3 separate regions of the Homo sapiens genome follow, and regions 1 and 2 are each linked to region 3. Evidence: fine-mapped expression QTL. A gene starts in region 3. Each other region holds a variant in brackets. All regions are shown on one strand. Distances are from middle to middle.

Region 1 (8,078 bases), 33 kb before region 3:
GGCACCACCTAAGTATTTGTGGCTGTTGTTACAAGCATTATCATTATAGCAGGCAAGCAGTAAGTATTTGTGGGAAAAGTGAATCCTTGTGCAACAAATATTTACTGCTCACCTCTGATGATAATAATAATAACCTAAAACCGTGGTTCTCAAACATCAGTATGCATAAGAATCACCTGGAGAGCTTGTTAAAAATGCAGAGCCTTAGATAACAGATTCACCAAGTCTGTCATAGGGCCAGAAATTCTATTTCTGAGACTGGTGTCCTCTGTCTATACTGAGAGTAACAGTCCTTTGGAAAAGTAGATTTGCCATCCTGGACTTCTATACTTCCTTTCCCAACGACAGACAATTGTCATCTGCTTGGCTGACAAGACCCTACCACCACATTAATTAACTTAATTTGGAGATCAAGATAAGAAAACAACAGTGGTAGAATCAATAGCAACAGAGCATTGCAGTAGCCACACAGCTTTTGCTAATTCCCAGGCCTTACGCAGAGTTCTTCATGCAGATGTGAGCTGGAGAGGTTTCTTGGATTGATTTGCAAGGTTGATTACTTCACTGTATTTCCACACAAAGGTTTTCATGGGAGATGTGTTATGTGCCCTCACTCTGATTGTTCTCATCCCAGAGTTGGAAAAATTGGTTCTAGAGAGGATCAACCAGTAGGGTGATCCTCCCACCGGCTCACCCACCAAGTCCATTCAAAACCCAGAGGAGGACCAGCCAGACGGTGTCTTGCTGCTTCACTAAAAACCCTTTATGTTGCATCTTGGAAACTGTCTGAGCCCAGACACTGGCAAGGAGAGGGTTGAGTTTCCCAGACAGCATCAGAGCATGTACCAGGCAGCCTGAGCTGGTATGGTCCTTGGACAAGAGGAAGCAGCGGGCCAAGTCCCATGCTCTCTGCCTGTGATGTCCACCCAATCTGGCACACCTGCTCCACCACTACCTTCCCCATCACAGTGCCATCTTTTGGTTTTTTTGGTTTGTTTTGTTGTTGTTGTTTTGTTTTTGTTTTTGTTGTTGTTGTTGTTGTTTTGAGACGGAGTCTGGCTCTGTCACCCAGGCTGGAGTGCAGTGGCACCATCTTGGCTCACTGCAACCTCCACCTCCCAGGTTTGAGCGATTCTCCTGCCTCAGTCTCCTGAGTAGCTGGGATTACAGGCGTGCACCACCACGCCTGGCTAATTTTTGTATTTTTAGTAGAGATGGGGTTTCGCCATGTTGGCCAAGCTGGTCTCGAACTCCTGACCTCAAGTGATCCGCCTGCCTCGGCCTCCCAAACTGCTGGGATTACAGGCATGAGCCACCATGCCCAGCCCCATCATTTCTTTGTAGCATTTGTTTTGTGCCAGGCATGGTGGGAAGCCTTTTTCTTGCATTATTGCACATGTAATTCTTACAACAGCCCTTGGATGTAGCTACTACTCAAGACTCCATTTTACAGATAAGAAGACAGGCTCTTAGGTCAAATAATTTCTTGGTGTTGCACAGTTCGCAGTGGCAGAGCTGCATTTCACATCTTTATGCCAGGATGTGTGGCTCAGCAGGCACATGACAGGCTAGATTCAGACCATCCCCATGGTGTGAGCACACTGTGGGGGGATTTTCTGACAAAAGAGATCAATTGGGGTATGATAATTCAGAATTACCTGGGAATCTCCCTGTCATTAGACATTCCATCCCTCCCCCAACTAAACGCCAGCAGCTCCCCACCCTAGTCATTGAGATGACCAAAAAACGCTCCCCATTTCCAATCCCCATGCAAAGCACAGCTCAAGTGTCCTCCCTGTGTCCATCAGAAACATGGGTGGTTTTGCTGTTTGTTTTTAAGATTCTTAGCACAAACATGGTTTCTGTGACCAGCAACCAGAAACCTGCGAGGTCCAGTGGAGACGCAGCTATCCTTCAACCTCCAAGGCCCTGTGCCATCAGCTCCAGGAGAAGTTATGAGCAACAGCTGACTGTCGGACAGACTCTTTAATCTTCCAGCCCTTTCTAGACAGGGCCTGTCAAAGGAAGGTCCCTTATGGCCAAAATTTCTTTCCAGGGAGTCAGCTCAGACAGCACAGTTGTCCCCAGAGAATCCTAGATTTAGATTGTTAATGCTTGAGGGACTTAAGAGATTATTTTTTCCAATCTCCTCCATTCACAAGGCCTAGAGAGGTGGAGTCATCTACCCCAGGGACACAGCTCACCAGCATCCCAGCTGGGGCTACAGTGCTGTCTCCAGTGTTCTCTCAGTTCTGGCCACCCTGCTGTCAGAAAACTAGCCATTGTGGAACTCAGGAGCACCATGAAGCACCGAAACGATGTCATTCGAGGGTGTATCAGAGCAACTAGGGATGCTGCGTGTCCAGAGCAGGGGCCTCAGATGGGCAGGACATCTGCCTATCACAGTCGCAGGGCTGTCAAGTGGAAGAGGGCTTTGCCTTGCTCTATGTGGTCCAAGCGGTGACATCAGGACCAGTGAGTAGAAGGTCCAAGACCACAACAGGGTTTGACTCATTCTAAGGATGAGCTCTGTAATAGTCAGAGCTGTGTGGCCAGGAATGGGCTGCCTTGCAAGGAAGGAGTCCCTGTTGCAGGAAGTGCTAGTGAAGACAGAAAAAGACACTGGGTGGGAAAGCTGCAGAGGGAGTCAGCCTCTGATTAGGGGACAGATTCCACAGCCTTAAAGATGCCTTCCAACCCTGCAAGACTTTTACCCAAGGTGATCACCTGAATCTCCCTCTCCCACCCCCAACGCAGGGGTCCTATCCTCTCTCATACCCCACGACTGCGGGAGGGTCACCCTAGTAGCAGGGTGTCCACCAGTCTCGACTCGGCAGAGTTTTCAGAGATTCCAGTGAATACTGTGACCTTAAATGAGGTCACATAAGATGGGACTGTGCCTACTGCTCTTCCCACAAAAGACTGTGGATTCCCTGCAGGGAGAATGTCCCTTTGGGGGAGTTGGTCCAGAGGACTATGGACTACACTTGCATCTAAGAACCTTGGAGGGGAATGGGAGGAGGGAGAAGAGGTAGGCTTCCTCCCACTCCCACTACCACTGGGGCCTCAAGGGATCTGCCAAGTTTGCTCCAGGAAGACTATTGCCAGCCTGGCTGTGCCTCATCAGCTGTTCCCCATGATGCTGAAAAGCAAAGCTAGGAAAATTCTCCATATGTTGGGGCCCACGGAGGGGGAGACAGCCACAAACAGCTGTGAGACCTTCATCGTTCCTGTATGATGAAATGACAGTAATTATGCCTCACATTTCAGCAGAGCATTTATAAGGCTAAAACGGGTTTGCTGTGGTTTTTACATGTGTGTGTTCATATGTTGCCTCATTCTGTATACAAAGCACTGTCACATGATGTACATTTTTATGCCTCTTATTCTTATTTATGCACATATACAGTAACAACTGCTCTGTAGGATAGCCAGGACGGGGGTAATTTTGCCCATTTTACAGATTACGAAATAAAGGCACATGAACCATTAGGCAACTTGCCCAGGTAAGACAGGCTGAGCTTTGTTTTTTAGGTCCATGGATAATGTTCTTTCCAACACACAGACACACATACACACATGCACGTGCAAACACACATGCATCTCTTTAGAATCAGTTTAATGGATATGCAACTAACTAGCATTTGAATAATTGTTGTTAATGAAGATGGTGACCTTGGAAACTGTTAGTGCAAGCATCATGTAGAGACAGGGCACAG[G/C]GAGTGGGGCAGGGCAGCTGAACGAATGAGGGGAGTAGCAGCTGGAGTGGCATGGGTGGTCCCCAAGGCTAATGCTGTTCACTCTAAAGCAGCACAGGACAAACATCTGTTTAACAAGGCACACAGGCTGTGGAGCCCACAGCCTCCCCAACATGTAGGATCCCACAGGCCATGGCCTGCCATAGGCAGCACTTGACCTCTGGGTTACATGCTGCTTCCCTGTGACAGACTAGGTCATGGAAGGAAGAGCAGTCCCAAGGTCACAGGCTGCCAAGAGTGTTCTCTATATGCAAAACTGCCTGAAAAATAGAGGTTCATCTCAGCAGGGAGAGACACAGAAATACATCCAGCAACAGTTATGAGGGCTCCCTCGCTTTGTGAGGAGTGCTTACGCAGGCTTTATGGCATGAACTCCAGAATAGTTCTTACTCTGGCCAACCGTGGTAGAGATTTAACAACCAACCCCAGCCTTCCTTTGGCAGATATGAGACCAACCTTTGCCTCACCTCAAATCCAAGTCTGGAGCCAACTTCAGCCCTCTTCATTTCCACTGATGGCCAGGGGAAGGAAGTGTGCTGGGCACCCCAGGGACACTCAGGTGACCACATGGCCTCAGCCATGTGGAGTCCTACATGCTATCCAGCTAGGTGACGGATGGAAGGAGTTGACGTCCCCTGTCCTGGCCACTACTCTGTCTTTCTTATTGTTATAAAGTCTAAGCCAACTGGCTTGGCCAAAAATGTGGCTGATTAATTCAACTGCTTAGGGAAGGATCTGATGATGCATTCTGGAGAGGGGGCAGGGAGAGGAAGGTAGAGGCAATGCAGAGGAAAAAGTAGAGGTCTAATGTTTATTGAGCACTAACTATGTTCTGGCTACTTGATATGCATTATCTTCTTTAATCTCATTTCATAGCTGGAGAAAGTGGGGCTCAGAGAGGCCCAAAGTCACATGGCCAGTAAGTGCAGAGCCAGGATGTGAATGAAAGATTTGCCTTGACTCCAAATTTCTACCACACCAGTGGGTTGCAACCTTTCTTATTTTTCATTCTACTCCAATATATGAAATTGGATAATGAATAAAAGCTCTGGTTGAAGCTCTGCCCTCTGGCCCTCCCCCTCTCTACCTCTGTCCATCCCCTGAGGCTCCACCTCACCCCTTAGGCCTCCATACCACATCTCTTGGAAACCTCTGTGGGCTCTGGTGGGCCAGGCCCCTTCTGGATCAGTGGATATGCAGAAAAATAATCTGGGAAGGCTTTGGAGCTGCACCTGCCATAGTAGTATCCTCTCAGGGCCCTGGAAATGCAGACAAAACCATTCCCGAGGCCACACTCCCACTGCAGCATCCCAGCTGGCTCGCTGGGAGGGGCCACTCAGCTCTCCTGAAGTGCTCACTCCTCAAGCATCACTCCAGGCTCTTGACACGCCCTTCCCTCAGTGACTGTAGTGCCTGTCCTCCCTCTGCCCCGCCATAACCAACCCACATACCTGAAGCTGCCCTAGGGGAGGTGGAATGAGAAGCTGGTGCTATATCTTTCATCTCTCTGAAGCCACGACCACCTCCCAGGCTAGGTGGTGACAAACCAGGAGGGTGAAAGAGCATTCTGCCTCACTTCACACCCCCATGCCATCAGCAACTACCTCACTACCTGCTGATGGCAGCCCTAGGCACCCAGCTCCCTGCATTCTAGGGGTGCACCCACCAGGAATCTAATGCGGGCCCTGGATTTCTATAGCTAGTTTGCCCCTCTCTTCACCCTCTTCTTCCTGCACCATGAGAGGAGCAACCCACATCCCAAGTTTGGTCTACCTTACGGTGTCTTGGCCCATTGCTACCCATCCTACCCCAATATCCCCAGTGCCACTGTCTGTCCTTGGATAGGGGTGGTGGGAGCTCTGGGGCTGCCTTGCCAGATGGTGAAGCCAGTGCTGAGCACTGGAGGCACATATGGAGGCAACAAAATGTAGGAGACAGAAGCATTACCAACAGCAGTCCTTCTCCCAGCTCCTTCCCCACCCCCTTCCATGCAAGGAGGAAGCCAATGACTGGCTGCTACTGAGGTTGAGGTCAAGATGCTACTCACAGAGGGCACAGCTTTTGGCCTGGCTAGGTGAGCATGCAAATCCATATGCAGATTATATGCAAATCTGGGGTGTGCCCTTGGGTTCCTGGCACCCTGCCATCGCTGCTGCCTGTAGCTCACCCTATTCATGCACCTGGGTACCCGCTAGAATCGACTGGGCTGGGAGCTGAGAAAGTGCTTCAGGAACTAGGGGATCTTCTCTTGACTACTTCAGAGGTCCCCCAGAAAACAACTCCTCCAAGATCACGGAGGAGGGAAGAAGCTCGCAGCCTGGAACTCGTATCCCTGCAGAAAAACTCTCTGAGCATCTGCCCTCCCCTCTCTTCATCTACAATTAAATCATCCTTCACCAGCCAGAGCAGGGTACCAAGCAAGTGGCAAGTGGCAAGGATGTGTCTTCTCTAAGACACAGAGAAGGTCAGGAAGGCTTGAGGTCTGCATCCCTCTGTCATAGGCTAACAGTCCATGGGGTGCTCTGGACAGACCTTGACCCTGTGTCTGGGGGCTCCTAGCCAGCCTGTTTGGGGCCTGCTTCCCTACCAAGCTCTCCCTGGGCCAAAGCCCTGTCTGCTTGCTCACATCCTCTCTGATCCTCATCCTAAGAAAACTAAGCCTCTCTGTCCAGTCCCCCGGGATCTGTTCAACTTAAGCGCCGCCTTTGGGTCTACTGCTTACTTGTTTTTTGTTTCTAATTAGCTCCCCCATTCTACTGCAGAAATATATTAAAGGCAGCTGGCTTTGATGCCCAGAAAAACGAAGCGTCGGAAAGGCTTGTCGGGCATCATGGCCCTGCCAATCTCCCTCATGTTATTCTAGCAACCGGGGTCTCTCTGCCACTCAGCCCCTCCCCAGTATTCACTGGCCCTTCGCCTGCCTCCCCTAAGTTGCGTTTGCCATTTCAAGATTTTAAAAACACATTTCCCCATTGCCCCCCCCCCCTTTTTTTAATTAGACACTGAACAGAATGTTGGAGATTTTCTTAATGCCCTGACGAAGGCTTTTAATTTGGTCTTCCCAAGAGAGAAGAACCATGAGTCCCCATCGGAGAAGTTGGGGTGGGAAATGAAAAAATCAATGCAATCCATTATTTTGGCTTTTAGAAAACAGGAATTTTAGTGCCGGGGAAGCTTGTTCTTTTACACAGTAAAAATGCAAATGCAGGCAACACAGATGCTGGCACGCTGGATGGAACAACGGAGAGCGCCTCGCCGGGGTTCATCCGGCTGCCTAAACCTGGATTTGTTTTGGCAATAATAAGGCAGTTATTGGAGACTCGATAACCGATGATTAAAACACCTTCCCAGTTTAGTTCTGGGGAATCAGTCTGAGCTCAGGCATCATAAAAAAAAGGTATTTTGAGAGGAATGGAAATAACAGAAGCTTAAAACACATTCAATAACTGCTTAATTCCATCCAAAGGATGCTCCATCTCATCCTGTTTTCTTCTCTCTCTCCCTGCCTCCTCCCGCTCCTCACAGATGGACGTACAAATTATTGCAAGAGGATATTGTTTTCTGTAACAGGCTCGAACATTCACATTTACATTTTCCTTGGTGCCGCGGGGGTGACTGGCAACGGGAGAGAAAATACTCCAAACCCCATCTTTCTTGCTGTCTCCGCATCACATCTTCCCCCAAGCCGCCTCTGCCACCCCCTACCACGCCACCCCAAGCAGAACAGGCCCCAGGGACCAGCCTGGCACCTAAGACCCAATTAAGGCACCAAGGAAAAGAAAAGCCTGTCTGGCGAGGCACCCTGGCGCCCAACAGACAGACGCTGGAGCCTCTGAATCGCAGGGGCACCGGGCTCTGCAGACCCAAAGGCCACCGAGGAGCCGCCACAACTGGCATCTCCAGCCCGCCTACAGGTCCAAGGCCACTGGCAACTTCCATCTCGAGTTGGACAAGATTTTGCCCCTTGGCTGTCCTGTTGCCTTCTGGGCCTTTCTCCACCCCCAACCCCATCTGCTCCCGCCCTATCAAATAGCTCGGCTTCATTTATTAATGCCAGGCTCCTGGAAGGGGGAGGGGAGTGTCCTTCAGGTATTTGCTGAGGGGCCTCCTGCACTCCCCGGGAATGGGCTGTCCTGGAAGATGTCTCCAGAGAGTGTTGTGGAGGCATGGGGGAGTTGGGGACAAAGCCGGGCTAGAGTGTGGCAGCGGCTTCGGCCTGTGCTTTCTCGCCTGACAAATTGCGAAAGGGGATGGGGGTTGGAGAGAGAACTATCGAGAGAGAAAGCCGCTCCTCACCTTATGTATTTTTAATATTAATGT
Region 2 (8,078 bases), 22 kb before region 3:
TGTACATAACATAAAATTTACCATTTCAACCATTTGAAGTGTACTATTCTGTGGCATTAAATACATTCACGATGTGCAACCATCATCACTTACCATTTCCAAAACTTTTTCATCATCCCAAACAGAATCCTGCACCCATTAAATAATAACTCCCCCTTCCCCTCCCCTCCCCCAGCTCCTGGCAACCACTATTCTACTTTGTCTCTATGAAGTTGCTTATTCTAGGTACCTCATAAGTGAGATCATAAAGTATGTATCCTTTTGTGCTTGGCTTACTTCACTCAGCATAATGTTTTCAAGGTTCGTCCTTTAAACGGGTGAGAAAATCGGGGCTTAACTTGTTCAAGGCCACCAAGGTTGTATCAGAAGCAAGACTAGAACCCAGGCCTCCCGACTCCAGAGCAGAGCTTGCTCTATAAGCTGCAGCATCCCTCGGTGGCTCAGCTCTTCATGCAAAATCACCACCCTGAAACAATTTGCAGGAGGTGTTTTGTCATCTGGAAACACAGGCATAGAACAGAGACGGGGGGACAGACTGCAGGGGGTGTTTGAGATGACCCAGACCGATCTTTTGCTTTACAGATAAGGAAACTGAGGCCCAGAGTGGGGAAGCCATGAGCCTTCCCCGAGGTCACGCAGGGAGTGACAGAGCCCTCACGTTTCCAGTCTTCTGTCTTAGCTCCCATCTCTCACCGCCCTCAGCCTGCTGGCTTATTCTTCTACCATGCCCCCTCCCTTCTAAAGGGAACGGTCATTGAGAGGAATCCAGTTATTTAAAACTAAGCCTATTGACCCAGAGCACCTGGTCAGGTCATGCCTAAAATAAACCGCTAAGGCAGACAGGATGAAAGGGGCTGCTGTCTGCTGGGAGGGGATCTGAGTGGGCCTGGGGTAGCGGCACAGCTGCTCCGTGCCTCACACGCTGGAAGTAGCGGTGGACCCTCTTCTTTGCATCCACCCCAAGTACCTCCTACAACCTGAGTGTAGGAGGCTTTATGCTAGTTATACACAGGGGGCTTTAAAGAACCACAACATGTGTGTTACCCGAAGGGCGAGGTCATTCATTGTGCCGGTGACTGCAGTCTGGCTGTCCCGGGAGGAGACATATACGTGGAAATAAACGGGTGGTCAGTTGGGGAGAGCAGACCTGGGGACCCCCTCTGGCAAAAGGAAGCTTTCTAATGTCATGGTTAAGAGCCTGGCTTTGGAAACAGCAGGAGATGAGTCCTCAGCCCAGCTCTGCCACTTGCCAGCTGTGTGCCTGGGAAATGTATGTGTGCCAAGCTGCAGTTTCCTTACCAGTGGAATGGGGACATCCCCAGCATCTGCCTTGGAAAGTCGTAGCGAGGATTAAATAAGACAAGCCCCATGGCTGACGCATAGTGAGCACAGGTAACTACCATGAATGGGAACAGCTTTGCTCACAAGGACCTTGACCTGTGGGAACTGGGAGGAGGGAACAGCTCCACTGGGGGAATGCTGGGACGATATTGTGCCTTCCATGCTGTGACAAAGCCAGAGCCAAGGAGCTGGGAATCCAGGAAAGGGGCTGCAGAAACACGGAAGGTGCACACTGAGGCGGAAGAGCCTGGAGAGATGGCTAACAAAAGAAGGACCTGAAAAACAGGCAGGTCAGGCCTCATGCTTTTTGTGTTTCCCATTGATTTTGTTCTTCCTTAGTATCTAGGGAAATGTCTTTGAAAATGACAGGTTGGCTCAGATGTATTTAGAAGTCTCCTCTTCGACAGGAGTTGTATTGGGGTGGGCAAGCCAGCATGCCAGGAAATCCCAAGGGAAAAATGAAACGCCGGGGAAGAGAGTCAGGCGGCGTGTTCTACCCCACGCCCACCTTAAACCCTGACAGTCCCCTCCCCAGCTGACATTTTAGAGGGGCTATATTTTGATAGAAGGGACAGTTCCCAAAATTATATGGAAAACTTCACACCCACACACAAATATATTCATGCCAGAGTGAGAACAAACACAGTTGCCCAGGCAAACATTCATGTGTACAGGTAAACATAAACACCTAATGACAGGCACACCTGTGCTTCAATGTGATTTGAACCCAATCCAGAAATTCTGCATTGGCACCTATGCATATGCTCCATTTTTTTAAGCCTCAAATTTGTGGGATTCCTTTCTAGTAGGGACACACTACCCATTTAAAAGCAGTGATCAGTTTTAATATTTTCTTGCATCAGAATGCTGGGTGATGATCTGTCTGTATTTTGGCTTTTGTGCTTTTGTTTTTGTTTTTTTTAAACAATGCCAGTTGAAGCAGCTATATGAAGTCACTGGGAGCTGAGCCCTCTCCAATTCAGGTTAATCATGGATATTTAGGGGGTATTATTTTGCCATGTTATATTAAGACTAGAGCCATCCTGAGAAACAGCAGATGTTTTTATTGTTTAACTCAAACAATAAGCTTATATATTTTGGATACTTTTCTTCAAAAACAAAGGCATAAAATTATTTTAACAATGGCTTCATATGCCCTCTGGAATTCTTTGACAACTTGAGTATAAACAGGGTTTTCATAAAAGGAATCAATACTGAACCAGGTCTGTGTGAAAAACTTAACTTTTGGTATTATATAGCTAATTCAAGATTGACCTTCTTAGTACTTACTTATCAGTTGGGGGAGGAAAAAACAAGGATCTCCCTGCTTCCCTCCCCAAAATTTATAATTGATTTTAATATTATAGAAAGAGTTCTCATCTACAAATCAGAAATCCTAGGTTCTTGTGTCACCTCTGTCTCCATAGCCAGCTGTGTTACCTGTGACAAGTCACCTTGCCTTTCTGGACCTCAGTTTCTTCACCATTGAGGTGAAAGAGCTGGGCTGGAATGATCACCAAGATCCCTTCCTAGGACCAAACACAAGGTAAATGCAAACAAATATGCCCATTCCCCCCTCCTACCCCACATAGGTGTATAGTGTGTACCCACAAATGTGTGCAGGCAGAGAAACAGAAGCTTTTATGCACAGATATTCAGAAACTAATAGGCACAAAAAATTACACAAAATAAACAGTTTTGGCTTCAAATATATACACATACATCTAAAATACCATCTTCTTGAGATGAGATGAATCAGTACAATTCATAGACTGTGATGCCTATATATAAAAAAATATTATGTGTCATTATACTACCCAGGTTCTCCTTAAACCAAAATTCTGTCTGCTGGGCTCAGAAGATGTCTAGGTATGCTTGCCACTTACTCTCTCATCATTTTGGATGATAATATTATGGCTCTAAGATCACTGGAGCAAAGGGTCTAAAGCCCTGGGGCTCCG[C/A]CTGTACAGATGCAGTCTCTGGGGTCCCATTGCCCTTGTTCAGGCTGCTGTCTCAGCAGTGACACCAGGATGGTTGGTCAGGGGCTGCGGAAGCCCCCAGCAAGGCAGGAGTCCCCTGAATAACTGTGGCCTCTCTCCTGCTGTTCTTTCTCAGCTCACAACTCTGAAATCGGTTGAGAAGCCAACCCAGAGAGGTTCCATGTAGTCCGGATTCGACAGAGCTGAAGCTCATTGTCACATTTCTCTCTGGGGAGCAGTGGGGTGGAAGGTATGGAAACTAAGAGAGATAGGAAAAAAAAGAAAGTGCAATGAGCAGAGCTAAACTTGCTGGCTTCCCAAGTCTTCCGGCATTTCTTCTGGCCCATGTGTCACTCACAAATGTGCTTATCAAATTTTATGAAAGTGTCTTCTACACTGGAAAACCTTCACCTTTCTCAAGTACCCAGTGCCCCCCTTTTTCACCTGTTTAAGGCTTCCCATTCAGCAGGGCCTGGTCAGGCACCCCCAGTTTTCCCTGACCAGGCCTCCTCTGGTCTCCCACTGCCTCAGACATCTACTTGGCCCATGGGTCTCATCCCTTTGTCTAGAATTGTGGCTATTTAGGCATGTGTCTGACTTGTCTCCTCTTCTAGACACTGGGCTCCGACCCTTTCGATTTGTACCTGCAGGCCCTAGCCTGGTGCCTCCTGGCTCTAGGGGTACACTCAGTAAGTGTTGATTTAATGACCAGATGGGCTCATTCTTATAAGGTAGCAGATATCTGATTACAGCCTCACGTGCCATGCCTTCCAGAGAGATGTCCCTTAACTAGGATCAAAGCCTTAAGCTTGAAAGTTCTCGTATTGGAGTTTCTCGTCTCTAAGAGTGAGCATTTGGCAGGACATTAGACCCCGCAGGAGTGCTGACCCCTAAAACCAAAGAAGTCTCAGCAGTTCCTGCTGAGCCCGCATCACTGTGGTCTTCACAGTTGTCATCTTGACCTTGTAGGCAGCGCCTCTAGGTTCCAGAGGCTTTATGTTTTCGTCCATTTCTGATTCTCACCTAAAAGGATCTGGATACATATGCCAGAATTGTTTTGATCATTATATAGATGAAGACACAAAGTCAGAGGAGTCCCAGAGGCATATTTGGGATGTTTAATACCATGACACTTACACAGCTCAAGCTTCAGATTCCTTTAGGGCCCTAGTAATGTGTTCACATGGTCAGATATGAAAACACTGTAGAATAATAGAGTTTAACTACTGTCAATCACAGCTGCTACCCTTTTCTGCTCTGGCTTCTCGGTGGGTCTGGTGAACATTTTGGGGGGATCTGACTCTGGCTTGGGATTGGTGGAATGTATTTATATGGTTCACAGGCCATGCACGTACTTCCAGGATAGGGAATGGCTTGCAGGAACACTCCTATCACCGACTGGGCCAGCTCACTGCGCTTTGTGACATGAAGTTGCAGAACCAGAAGTTGTATCACAGTATAACTGTGGCCTCAGGTGCCTGCACCAGGGGTGTGTGTGTAGCATAGGAAAGACAAGGTTTGAAATGCATGGAGCCAAAAGCCAGCTTATGTAAAGCTGTGAGCAGAAGTAACGTAAAAAAATTTTTTTTAATTTAGAAAGCATTTTTGAGGTGTGTCAGTTAATACAAATATTATGTTATCTGTCTGGATTTCATGATGGCATTTGTCAGTTTTTTCAAGATTTGTAACTTGTTGCAATTTCTTTTTATCTTTCTAAATTAATAATCACATTTGATTATTAATATATTAATGATCATATTTGTATCTAATTTTGTATTCATAATTGTGTATTGTTTTCCTTAGTGAGGCCTAAGCTTCCAGCCCTCAATGGTCTAAGCTTCCAGCCCTGCAAAACCTGAATCCGTCCCAGGAACTTTCCTTGGGTTACACTGTGGCTGGGGACCAGGTTCTCTGGATTCTGGTCAGGGCTCCCCGCTTGCCTCAGAGGTCTTAAGTCTGTATGTCAATCATGTATTTGTACAGTGCTGTTCACACAGAAGCCCCCTTGGAGAGATTTTCCTCCCCAGAGAAGAGAAAGTCAAGGCCCAGGCCCATGGTGGTGACCTTGACTTAGATGATGAAAGTTCTCTTCCTAGAAAGTCTGCCCATTTCACCACAGGCTGGACTTGCCAGTCCATGCGCTGGAGGATCTCAGGATGGGAGACAACTTGGTGCTGCCGTAACGCCTTCCACGGTCTCTCTGCAGGGCAGCATCCCTCCTGTCACTGTGACTGGCCACCAGCATTGTGGACCGAGACCCTCCTCAAAGTCCAGGAGTTGCTACAAAACACTAGCAAGTCCTCCAGCCACTCTGAGCAGGAGAAATGTGCGGCCCAGAAATTCCACCTGCTGGAGGCCAAAGCCACGGCTCCTGGGGTGCCCCAGTGGTGAGTGGGCTGCAATTTGGGACAGTGAGGCTGAACAAAGACATTGCCTGGAGACCACGGGGAATGTTGGCCCCTCAGTTACAGAATCTGAGAGGGGGCAGTGCCTTAGAGCTCAGCTCACCTGGCCCCATCTCATACCCACTGGCTTTCTACACCGACCCAACAGGTGTCAACTCAGTCTCTCAAATGCTGCCAGGGAAAAGGGGCTTGCTCCCCACACAGAAGTTTATCTAATTTCACTGTCCACAGTCATGTACACATGCTTTTCTTTATCAAGCCCAAATCTGCCTTAGCTTTCTGGAGTTCAAAAGATGTGCCCAATCTGGACAAAATGACAGCTATTCAAATATTCAAGAACTGCTACCGCAGGCCCCCACACCTTCCTTTTGCCAGGCTACGTATCTTTTTTCTTTTCTGACATAATTTCTAGACCTTTCCCTATTCTGGTTTCCCTCTTTGCTTATATTCAACTTTAGCAATATCTCGTCCGGGCATGGTGGCTCACGCCTGTAATCCCAGCACTTCGAGAGGCTGAGGTGAGAGGGTCACTTGAGCCCAGGAATTCAAGACCAGCCTGGACAACACATGGAGACCCATCTCTACAAAAACATTTAAAAGTAGCCAGGCACGGTGGTGCATGCCTGTAGTCCCAGCTACTCGGGAGGTTGAGGTGGGAGGATCTTCTGAGCCTGGGAGGCTGAGGATGTTAGTGAGCTGTGATTGTACCACTGTGCTCCAGACTGGGTGACAGACTCTGTCTCATAAAAGAAAAAAAAAATCTCTCTTAAAACAGAATAGACTCATGAATCCGGATGAGGTCTGAGCAGCTCCAGTCCAGCGCCATCACCCCCTCAGTAGGTAGCTGATCTTCTCTTACTGTTGTCCAATGTTTTGTTGGATTTCCTGGGCTGACATGCCAATCACTCTGGACCACTATCCCACGAACTTCTACTGAACTGGCCTCCTTGGCCTGTAATCCTGATGTGGATTATTTGAGAGAAAACATGATCCCATTCATCATTTGGTGAAAGTTGGGAAATGGGGTGTTGCCTGGGTCAAATGGCACTTACTTACACAATGGGTGACTCAGAATGTCATCTAAGGTCCTAGCCCAGCCCCAGTGAGGGTGGCAGAGCTCAGCTAAGAATGCAGCAATAAGGTTCCCATTTCAGGCCACAATGACATTGAAACCCAGCATCTTTACCAAACTTGACCTTATTTTTGATAAATCCAGCAGAAAACAGAAAAAGATCTAACATAGCATTTCACAAGTGTTTCATGAGAAGGTAATAGGTAAGGTGCAAAAACTGATCTATGGTCAAATAGGTTTGGAAAACAGTGGAATAATCAAAGGTAAATAGGTTTTTGTGGGAGTTGTTTTTGTTTTTGTTTTTTACTGCAGGCTTTAACACGCTGGTGGGCATTGTCAATCTCCAAGTGCTACAGTATGAGGTTTTGGGGGATCCATTTCCCACTTCTCCTGGTTAAAAACTCTGTTCTTTCACTGTTTCTGGTCCACACCTGGCCTAAAGGAAGTACATTTTGTTGGTTTACTCATTCTTTTGGCAACTCTGTGCCCAGCCCCTGTGCAAGGAGTTCCCCGATCCCTGGAAAGTCTAGCACAGAGTCCCTGCCCTCAGGAAGCTTGCATTCCAGTGGAGTAGAAGATGTTTAAAGAGCAACACAGGGAAGCCTACATGCTCAGAGTCAGCAGGTCAGAGTGTGAAGGGACCTGGGGAGCATCTCCTGCAAGTGCCTAGGAAACAGTGGCTGGCAGGTGAAGGGCGTCCCAGGTCACATGGCAGAGTCAGGGCTTAGGTCCAGGGCTCCTGACCGCCTGGCCTGCGCTCAGCTAAGTGGTGTTTACCTCCCTCCTAGGCCCTGTTGCCTTCAGACTCTTGCCCACCTTGTTCACCACTCCATCCTCAGTACCCAAGGCAGGTCTTTGATGACTGTTTGTCGAATGAAGCTATGATGATGTGGCTGGGTTGGATGATCTTTACAGTCTCACCTAGGGCAAGGGGTTCGATAAGTCTGTGAAGAGAGCTGCTTAAGCTCAGAGAAAGGAGTGGTCAGTAAAAACCAAGGTAGGATGTGAGTTGGGCTTGAGCAATGGGAAGGATATGCAGAGAGGCAGGGAAAAGGCCTCCCTGCAGGGGCTCAGGAAAGCCTGACTCTATGGTGTGTCTACCCATCTGAGACACCCACACATCTGGCACATGGCAGTTCAGAGCTGTGTCCTCAAAGACTCATCGGTCCAAACTCTGAGCTGAACTGGCGGGCTAATTGTTTGTCTGCATCAGCCAAAGTAGCTTCTTCTTTTGGCAAATCATAATCAGAGTCCTGGACTCCTACTAATAACAATGATTAT
Region 3 (7,504 bases):
TTCATTGATTTGCCTGGTGGGGGAAGGAAAAGCAACAGGTGAGAGGGCAGGGGGAGGGGTGGGTCTAGGGATCTCTGAGGCTGGGGATCCTCCACTGTGTCAGAGACAAAATCCTCAGCCCGCCCCTCCTTCTCCAGCCCCAACCCCCTCATCGGTCACCCCAGGCAGCGCTCACCTGCGCTTCTTATTGCCCCCACAGCGGAATCTTCTGCCTTGAAAAGAGAAAAGGAGATTTGTTTCCATGGACTAATTTTCCAAGGAGACCCTGGAAGACTCAAAATTCTTCCAGTCTCTCCTACCTCCCTCCTGCCAGTATCATCGCAGGGTCAGGCTTGGAGGCCACGTTTGACTGTCTCTATTTTATTTTATATTTTATTTTATTTTATTTTTTGAGACGGGGTCTTACTCTGTCACCCAGGCTGGAGTGCAGTGGTGGGATCGTAGCTCACTGCAGCCTCAAACTCCTGGGCTCAAGTAATCCTCCTGCCTCAGCCTCCCAAGTAGCTGGGACTATAGGTACATGTCACCATGCCCAGCTAATTAAAAAAATTTTTTTTTGTATAGATCGGGTCTCACTGTATTGACCAGGCTGGTCTTAAACTCCTGGTCTCAAGAGATCCTCCTGCCTTGGCCTCCTAATATGCCGGCATTACAGGCATGAGCCACCACGCCCAGCCTTCTCTCTCTTTATATAAGGCTGGACCATAGGCATTTAAGAACCTAAGTCAGTCAGTCAGTCAGCAAATATTTACTGGAGCAGATCCACGGTGGTCTGTTGGCATATCGAGAGTAGCAGCAGAGACTGGGCCATCATGGTGCCCCCAGCACAGCTGCCCGATGAACACCTGGAGAAGGATGGCAGCAACTCCAAAGTGGAGCCCCTTGCTTAGGCCACCTGCCTCCTGTGCCTATGTGATCAGCTGCCACCCGGCACTGCCCTCCGGGAGCTGCCACGGGCAACATGTGAAAATGGGGAGACCTGCAGGACTGTGGCCCGAGCCTTGGGGTGGGCTGGCAGTGGCACACGTAGAGAGAGCTGCCATGGGCAACACGGGAAAATGGGGAGACCCGCAGGACTGTGGCCCGAGCCTTGGGGTGGGGTGGCAGTGGCACACGTGCATTAGAAGTCCAGAGCCCACAGGTGTGCTTGCTGTATCTTCTTTCCATGGGTTGTGTTTTCTGTGTATTTTTCTTTGGGTTGGACCAAAACAAGTCAATGTGCAGTTATTAAGCTCCTGCTGTGTGCCCCTCGGGGCTTGAGGATACATAACTCTCTTTGTCTCCCCCAGAACACTCCGAGTCTGCACTGGACCGTTCTCAGAGCGCTGTCCTGACTGCCATGTCTTTGGATGCTAGCCCTAATCTTGTGAGGCAGGTGGGATCATCCCTATTTAACAAATGAGTTTGGGACCATGGTTAGCAGCGGGGGGCCTAGTCCCCCTGTCTGGCCCTCCGGTTACCCAGTTACCCCGTGGGTTTGCTCTCACTTCTGCGGCTCCTCCCGGGCCCACTGGAGGGTGCACTTGAGCAAGCAGGAACCTCACACTGTGCTCCCAGCGAGCCTGGCACCCCACCGGGCACCCATTCCCACATCCTGCAGTGGGGGGCGTGGTGGGGAGGCTCACCCCTCCCTTGGCAACTCCCGAAAGCCAGCCTGCTCAGCGGCCTTGAGAAGAGAGGTGCCCTGGTCAGCACCCCTTCCCTGGAGGCCACCCCACTTACTGAGGAGGATGAGGAGCCCCACGATGAAGGCCAGTCCAGCGAAGATCAGGCCCCCATTGCGAACGGTCTCATAGTCTCCGGAAAGAGAGGGCAAGAGGAGCGGGATGGGTGGTCTCTCCCAGCAGCTGTCTCTCTCCGCAGCCTGCCCGCAGCAGCCCGTGGTAACCAGGGGAGATAAGGGGCACAGAGCATGGACCTGGGGCTGGGAGAGGCCGCTGCTTGGTGGAAGGGGTCCTGAGGGCTCAGGAAGGGTGCGCAGGGGCCCAGGCTTACCATAGTAGAACGGGTCCACGTCCCCCTTGGGGCTGCCGCCTAGGAGAGAGCCAGAGGTGGGATGAGAGGAGTCACCGATGGTGAGCCAGCCACAGGAACAGCTGGAATTCCCTGTCCTTCCCTTCCCAGAGGACCCTCGAGGGTCCAAGCAGGCGAGGGGAGGCTGGGAGCAGGGGTGTTGCTAAAACCATTGCCAGCAGGCTTCTGCTCCAGGCGGCTTCAGACACGCTCAACTGGGGACCAAATACCGAGTGTCCGAGGGGGATCCGTGCTGTCTGGGGGGCCTCTGACCACTCCGGAAGGGTGGCTCTCTCCTGCTCCTTGATTCCTACCATGGTAGAAAAGGCCAGGAGAAGCCTCTCCCATTAGACTCCCAGCGGCCTCTCTCCACAGGACCATTTGGCTATCAGGTGCTTAGCAGCTATTTGGGAAATGCATGAATAAATAAAACAGAACCTTAAAGTTTATCAGACAGAAGGAGGAAGCCGAGCCCAATGTGTAGACTTGTTCAAAGTCCTAATGAAAGCTGAGACAGACCTCCTTTCCTGCGTTACCATCCTCAGGGGAAGCAGATCTAGTTAAGAAACATTAATATATAGTGCTGGTCAGGCACCGGGCAAAAACTAACAAACCCTAACTCATCTAACCATTATGGCAACCTTATGAGGCGTCAATGTCATTCTGGTGTAATCCACAAGAGGGTGGAAGTGCAGAGAAGAAATTCCCCCACAGTTATACAGCAAGTCAGGGGTAGAGCTGGTGTTTGAACCCAGGAAGCAGGGGGCTGAGAATGGAGGTGCATAAGCCCTTTGATCTGCCACCTCTCAATGGCGGGAGGGAAGGAGCCCGTTAGAGGTAAGGTCCTGCCCCTGCCTCTGGTGGCCTCCCCCGGATTTGGAGCCGCTCAGCAGGCAGGTCTCACAGTGGTGCCCTGCAACTGAGTACACTTGCCCCGGACAGCCAGACGGTGGCCTGGCCAGGACGCTTCTGCCACAGCTAAGGGCCGCTACTCTTTCCTGCCCTGCCGGAGCCCCTTCTCGCACGAGGGAAGTGGAGCCCGAGGAGGAAGGAACGCGCAAGTTAGCACTTTCCGGGCTGTGCCAAACTGTGCCCCTGAGCAGCAGTGAGACTTAGGGTCTGTCAAGCCCAGCTGTCCCCAGCGGCCAGTCCCTGGGCCAGGAAAGGACAGGCCAGGAAGAGTCAGTGCCCATCCTGACGGGCCTGAGGTGCTGGGTGCTCAGGGAGGCCATGAAGGACCCAGGTCCCACACAGAAGGCCGTCAGGGCTGTCTTCCCAGATTTGGTTCAGGCCTTGTTTAAGGTCATATGGGGATTTAAGTGTCAGAGCAACAGCTAGACGCCAGCTGAGGCTTCCCCACACGCCCCAGGAAACCTCCTCCTCCGTGGCCACCTGGCCCTGAGCCGCTTGCTGAGACCCTCCCTGCCCAGCACCCTCCCCTTTCTGCATCTGGCTCAAAACCCACCTCTGTCAGCAAGTGCCCCTCTTGGTTTCCAGGCCTGAGTCAGTTCCTGTGACAGGAAGCCTTTGGAGAGTGTGACTTGAACTTGGCGGGCTCTCACCCCAAATCCAGCCTAGGAAGGCTGACCAGAGGGGCCTGCTCCTTCCCCAGCCAGATGGACGCCGTCTGCCTCCCGCCCAAGTTCAGACGGTCTAGCAAGATGCATTGAACTCAGGGCGGGTGTGTGCCAGGAGGCCGAGGAGGAACGCTCAGCTCTCCAGCTTCTATCTGCTGCCTTTCTGCCACTCAAGCTATCTTTCTTTGGGGTTAAAGCAGGGTCCTCCTTTAAGTTGCAAATTTTCTTAGAGAGGAGGCCGACAGGAAGAGGGGCTGGGTACTCTGGAAGGCTGAGGTGGCAGGAGAGGGAAGAGTAGGGTCCAGCTGACCCCACAAAGGCAGGCCAATCAGAGCCACCCAGCATTGCACACGCCCGGGCACGCACACCAGCACACTCACCACCGTCCATCGACAACCCAGTCATTTCCCCAGGTGAATGGGCTGCCTCCACTCCCCTCTTCCTGCTGTCTCTGCTTTTTGGAGAGTGTCTGGCTGCCTCCACGGGGTGGCCGGGGACGAGGTGCGGGCATTAAACATTAACAGTGCCAGGTAATATTTACCCTGGTCACAAGAAAAGCTGCAGTGTGGATGGAGGGGCTCCTTCTGCAGGGTGAGGACGTGCGTGGGGAGGCAGGGGCAGGGAGGAGCTGGCTGAGTTTCCAAACCTTCCCAAAGGAAATTTCCAAAGAGAAGGGTTGGGATGGGTCAGCAGTCGTGCTGTTCTGCCAGCTGGGGAAGCTACAGCTGGGGCGGTGGGAACAGGAAAGTGGAAGTTGCACAATCTCTTCAGTGTACACTGTACTTGGGAGTTTCTGGGGGCAGTGGCCCACAGTGGCCCCCAGCCCAGGCAGGGCCCACCGCACCAGCCACCATGGATGCCGCCGCTGCAGCTGGTGTTCCTTATGTGGTACTGGAGGCTTTCCTGCAGTGGTCCCTAGGAGCCTGGCCCACTGCTCCCCCACCACATCCCTGGAGCACCGCCAAAGCTGACCAGCAGTAGATCCTCCAGAAGGGCCCTTCATCTGTCATCCTATTCACCCATCAACGTGCACCCTGCAGGTTACACCTCATTCAGAAGGGCTTCAGTCATCCCCAACTAATTTCTCCTTCCCTGCCGCCCTGGCACTTCCTCCTACCACCATTTGGCCTGGCTCTCGGATTGTGTCCTTGCCAGTTTACCATGGAGCATGCAGGATCCTTAAGGACAGGGCAAGACTTTCATCGTGGGGAAAACCCCCTGCGTTTATGGTTTACCAAGCACTTTCCTCACTGTTTTTTCTCCTCAAGCTTTATGTTTCCCATTTTACTGATGAGGCAGGTGTCTAAGGCACAGAGAGGTAGGGGCCTTGCCCAGGGTCACACAGCCAGTGTGGGGGAAGTGGAGACTGACAATCAGGCCTCCTGCTGCAGGAGGCAGATGCTTTCCACACCTCGCAGGCAGCCTCCCCACTCCGCTGTGACCTCCTTCGCCCCAGGACTCCTGTGCCGGGTAGTCACAGGTACTGTAGAATCCTCGTTGAGTTCTAGTCCATTGAATTGGCCTCCAGAAAAGGCTGAAGCCCAATGGCCACAAAACAGCCAAGGTCAGTGGCCAGCGGACAGCAGGGGAGCTTGAGCCCTTCTGAAGGGAGCCACTGTATCCATGAATCCTCCCCAAGCAGGGGCAGGGCTTGGCACTTGAGTTCACACCCTGGCCCTCTCACTTGCTAATGGTGTGGTCTCAGTCAATGACTTCACCTCTCTGTGCCTCAGTCTCCTCATCTGTAAAATGGGCGCAGTACCCAGCTCCTAGGGTGGTGGTGAGGGGAAGTGAGATAATGCATGCAAAGAGCATATCCCAGGGCCTGGCACACGGTGAGTGGCATCATTTTTACTGTTATATGTGTGTTGATTGAAGAAATGACAAGCATTAGCCTTTGGCAAATGTTTGCTGTTGGACATGGAAAAGCCAGCCACCCTCCAATGAAAATGGGCACGAATGAGTGAGACGGAGAGAATGGCATGGCCCTGCAGATCAGGCGCTGCAATACCCGTTCAGCTCCCTTCTGCTTCTGGAGCCAAGAAATATATATTCGTGCAAACATCACAGCAGAGCCAGCGTTTGGTGAAGATGGACCACGTGCCAGGCTCTTGGAATGCACTGCATCACTTAATTCCTACTAATGGCGTTTTACAGATAAAGAAACTTGAGGCTGCTCATTTGCTTTCCACAATAGCCCCTGGACGTGGCCAGGGCACTGGGTACACCAGAAAAAACGAGGGCAGGAAGGTGAAGGGACTTGCCTGAAACACACAGTTAATGGCAAACTGGAGGTAGAAAGCCCAGATCCTCCAAGATGTGCTACCAAAGCTACTGCCATCTCCACACAAGACAAGGGTGCTCCCTTTATTATACAGGATTGTGTTATCTTATTGCATTTGGTCTGTATTTGTAAGCCTCCATGGAGTCTTTCGGGAATAATAAGAGATGTAAAAATAAGTGGGAAGTTAAATAAATTCATCTGTCTGTCTGTCTGTCTGTCTGTCTATCTATCTATCTATCTATCTATCTATCTATCTATCTATCTATCTGTCTATCTATCTATCTATCCATTGACAACCCAGTCATTTCCCCACCCAAATGGACTGTCTCCACTTGCCTCTTCCTGCTGTCTTTGCTCCTTGGTGGGGTGGCTGGGGATGAGGTGGGGGCATTAAACATTAACAGTGCCAGGTAATATTTACCCTGGTCACAAACAAAGCTGCAGTGTGGATGGAAGGGCTCCCACTGCGGGGGGGAGGAGGTGCATGGGGAGGCACCAACAGATGGATGGATAGATAGATAAATAGAGAGATAGATAGATAGATAGATAGATAGATAGATAGATAGATAGATAGATAGATATGGATGATAGATCGATCAATAGATAGATGAATAGGAAGCAATAGGGAAAGCTAGTTGATGGCTACATTTTTAAACTCTGTGTGCAAGGCACCGTTTCAAGCACTTTACAGAAATTAATTCTTTTTTTTAAGACGGAGTTTCGCTCTTGTCACCCAGGCTGGAGTGCAATGGTGCGATCTCGACTCACTGCAACCTCCGCCTCCCGGGTTCAAGTGACTCTCCTGTCTCAGCCTCCTGAGTAGCTGGGATTAAAGGCATGTGCCACCAAGCCTGGCTAGTTTTGTATTTTTAGTAGAGACGGGGTTTCACCATGTTGGTCAGGCTGGTCTCGAACTCCTGACCTCAGATAATCCGCCCGCCTTGGCCTCCCAAAGTGCTGGAATTACAGGCGTGAGCCACCATGCCTGGCCAGAAATTAATTCTTTAGTCATCACAATGAGTTTTAGAAGGTAAAGAAGGCATTATTATCACCCCATTTCATAGAGGAAGAAACTGAGGCCCAGATAAGTTAAATAACTTGCCAGAGGTCAGATGGCCAGAGGGTAGGGGAACCAAGATTTCAAGCCAGCAGCCTGGCTTCTGAGTTCCTGCATCTCTAAGGGACGGATGGACAGACAAGTAAATGAGGCAGTTGGACAGCTGCCTTCCCAGCCCTCGCAGCTCAGATATGCTCTGCACACACGTTACAGCAGGCCAGTGACTCCGTATGGAGATGCTCTTTTTTGGAAATTCTGCCTCTCTTCCTTTCTGCTTTTCCTGCACTTCTGGGGAGCTTGTGGGTGCACTTGAAAGGGACGGGGCTGGCACCTGTGTTAGAGCCTGAGCAGGGAGGAGGAATGGGGCTCAGAGGACTCACCCAGGTACCACCTGTCCATGGCAGGAGCTGCTGGTTGTGTCCAGGAGTGCAGGAGAGCAGGGAGGTGCTGCTTGCCTGGGGCCTGGATGGAGAGTGGCACTCCCCCTCTTCACACTTCAGGTGAGCCCACAAACAGGAAGAGACACAGGGAGGGAGGAGGGGCTGGCAAAGGAGCCCTTACCTCGTGCCCACT

Evidence for each region. PIP is the estimated chance that this variant, and not a neighbour inherited with it, causes the effect. A credible set is the group of variants that fine-mapping cannot tell apart.
Region 1: its variant is the best candidate, but not a certain one, in a credible set for the expression of FXYD2 in lung (GTEx, PIP 0.57).
Region 2: its variant is the best candidate, but not a certain one, in a credible set for the expression of FXYD2 in ileum (GTEx, PIP 0.82).

What each region holds. Positions count from the first base shown.
Region 1 is chr11:117,787,300-117,795,377 of GRCh38, forward strand. All of the region lies in intron 1 of DSCAML1 (DS cell adhesion molecule like 1), which reads right to left. Among named protein-coding and RNA genes, the nearest start is that of DSCAML1, 5.9 kb to the right of the region's middle. The variant G/C (reference allele first, on the strand shown) is at 3,720.
Region 2 is chr11:117,798,457-117,806,534 of GRCh38, forward strand. It overlaps a transcript of DSCAML1 not described here. Among named protein-coding and RNA genes, the nearest start is that of DSCAML1, 5.3 kb to the left of the region's middle. The variant C/A (reference allele first, on the strand shown) is at 3,303.
Region 3 is chr11:117,820,684-117,828,187 of GRCh38, forward strand. FXYD2 (FXYD domain containing ion transport regulator 2) reads right to left here and starts at 4,061. Exons shown (of 6, transcript NM_001680.5): 1 at 3,971-4,061; 2 at 1,996-2,034; 3 at 1,723-1,797; 4 at 176-212; 5 at 1-13. The coding sequence starts at 3,995. It overlaps FXYD6-FXYD2 (FXYD6-FXYD2 readthrough), which reads right to left. Exons shown (of 10, transcript NM_001243598.4): 7 at 1,996-2,034; 8 at 176-212; 9 at 1-13. The coding sequence ends at 185. RefSeq lists enhancers at 1,585-2,138, 3,801-4,354, 4,355-4,907.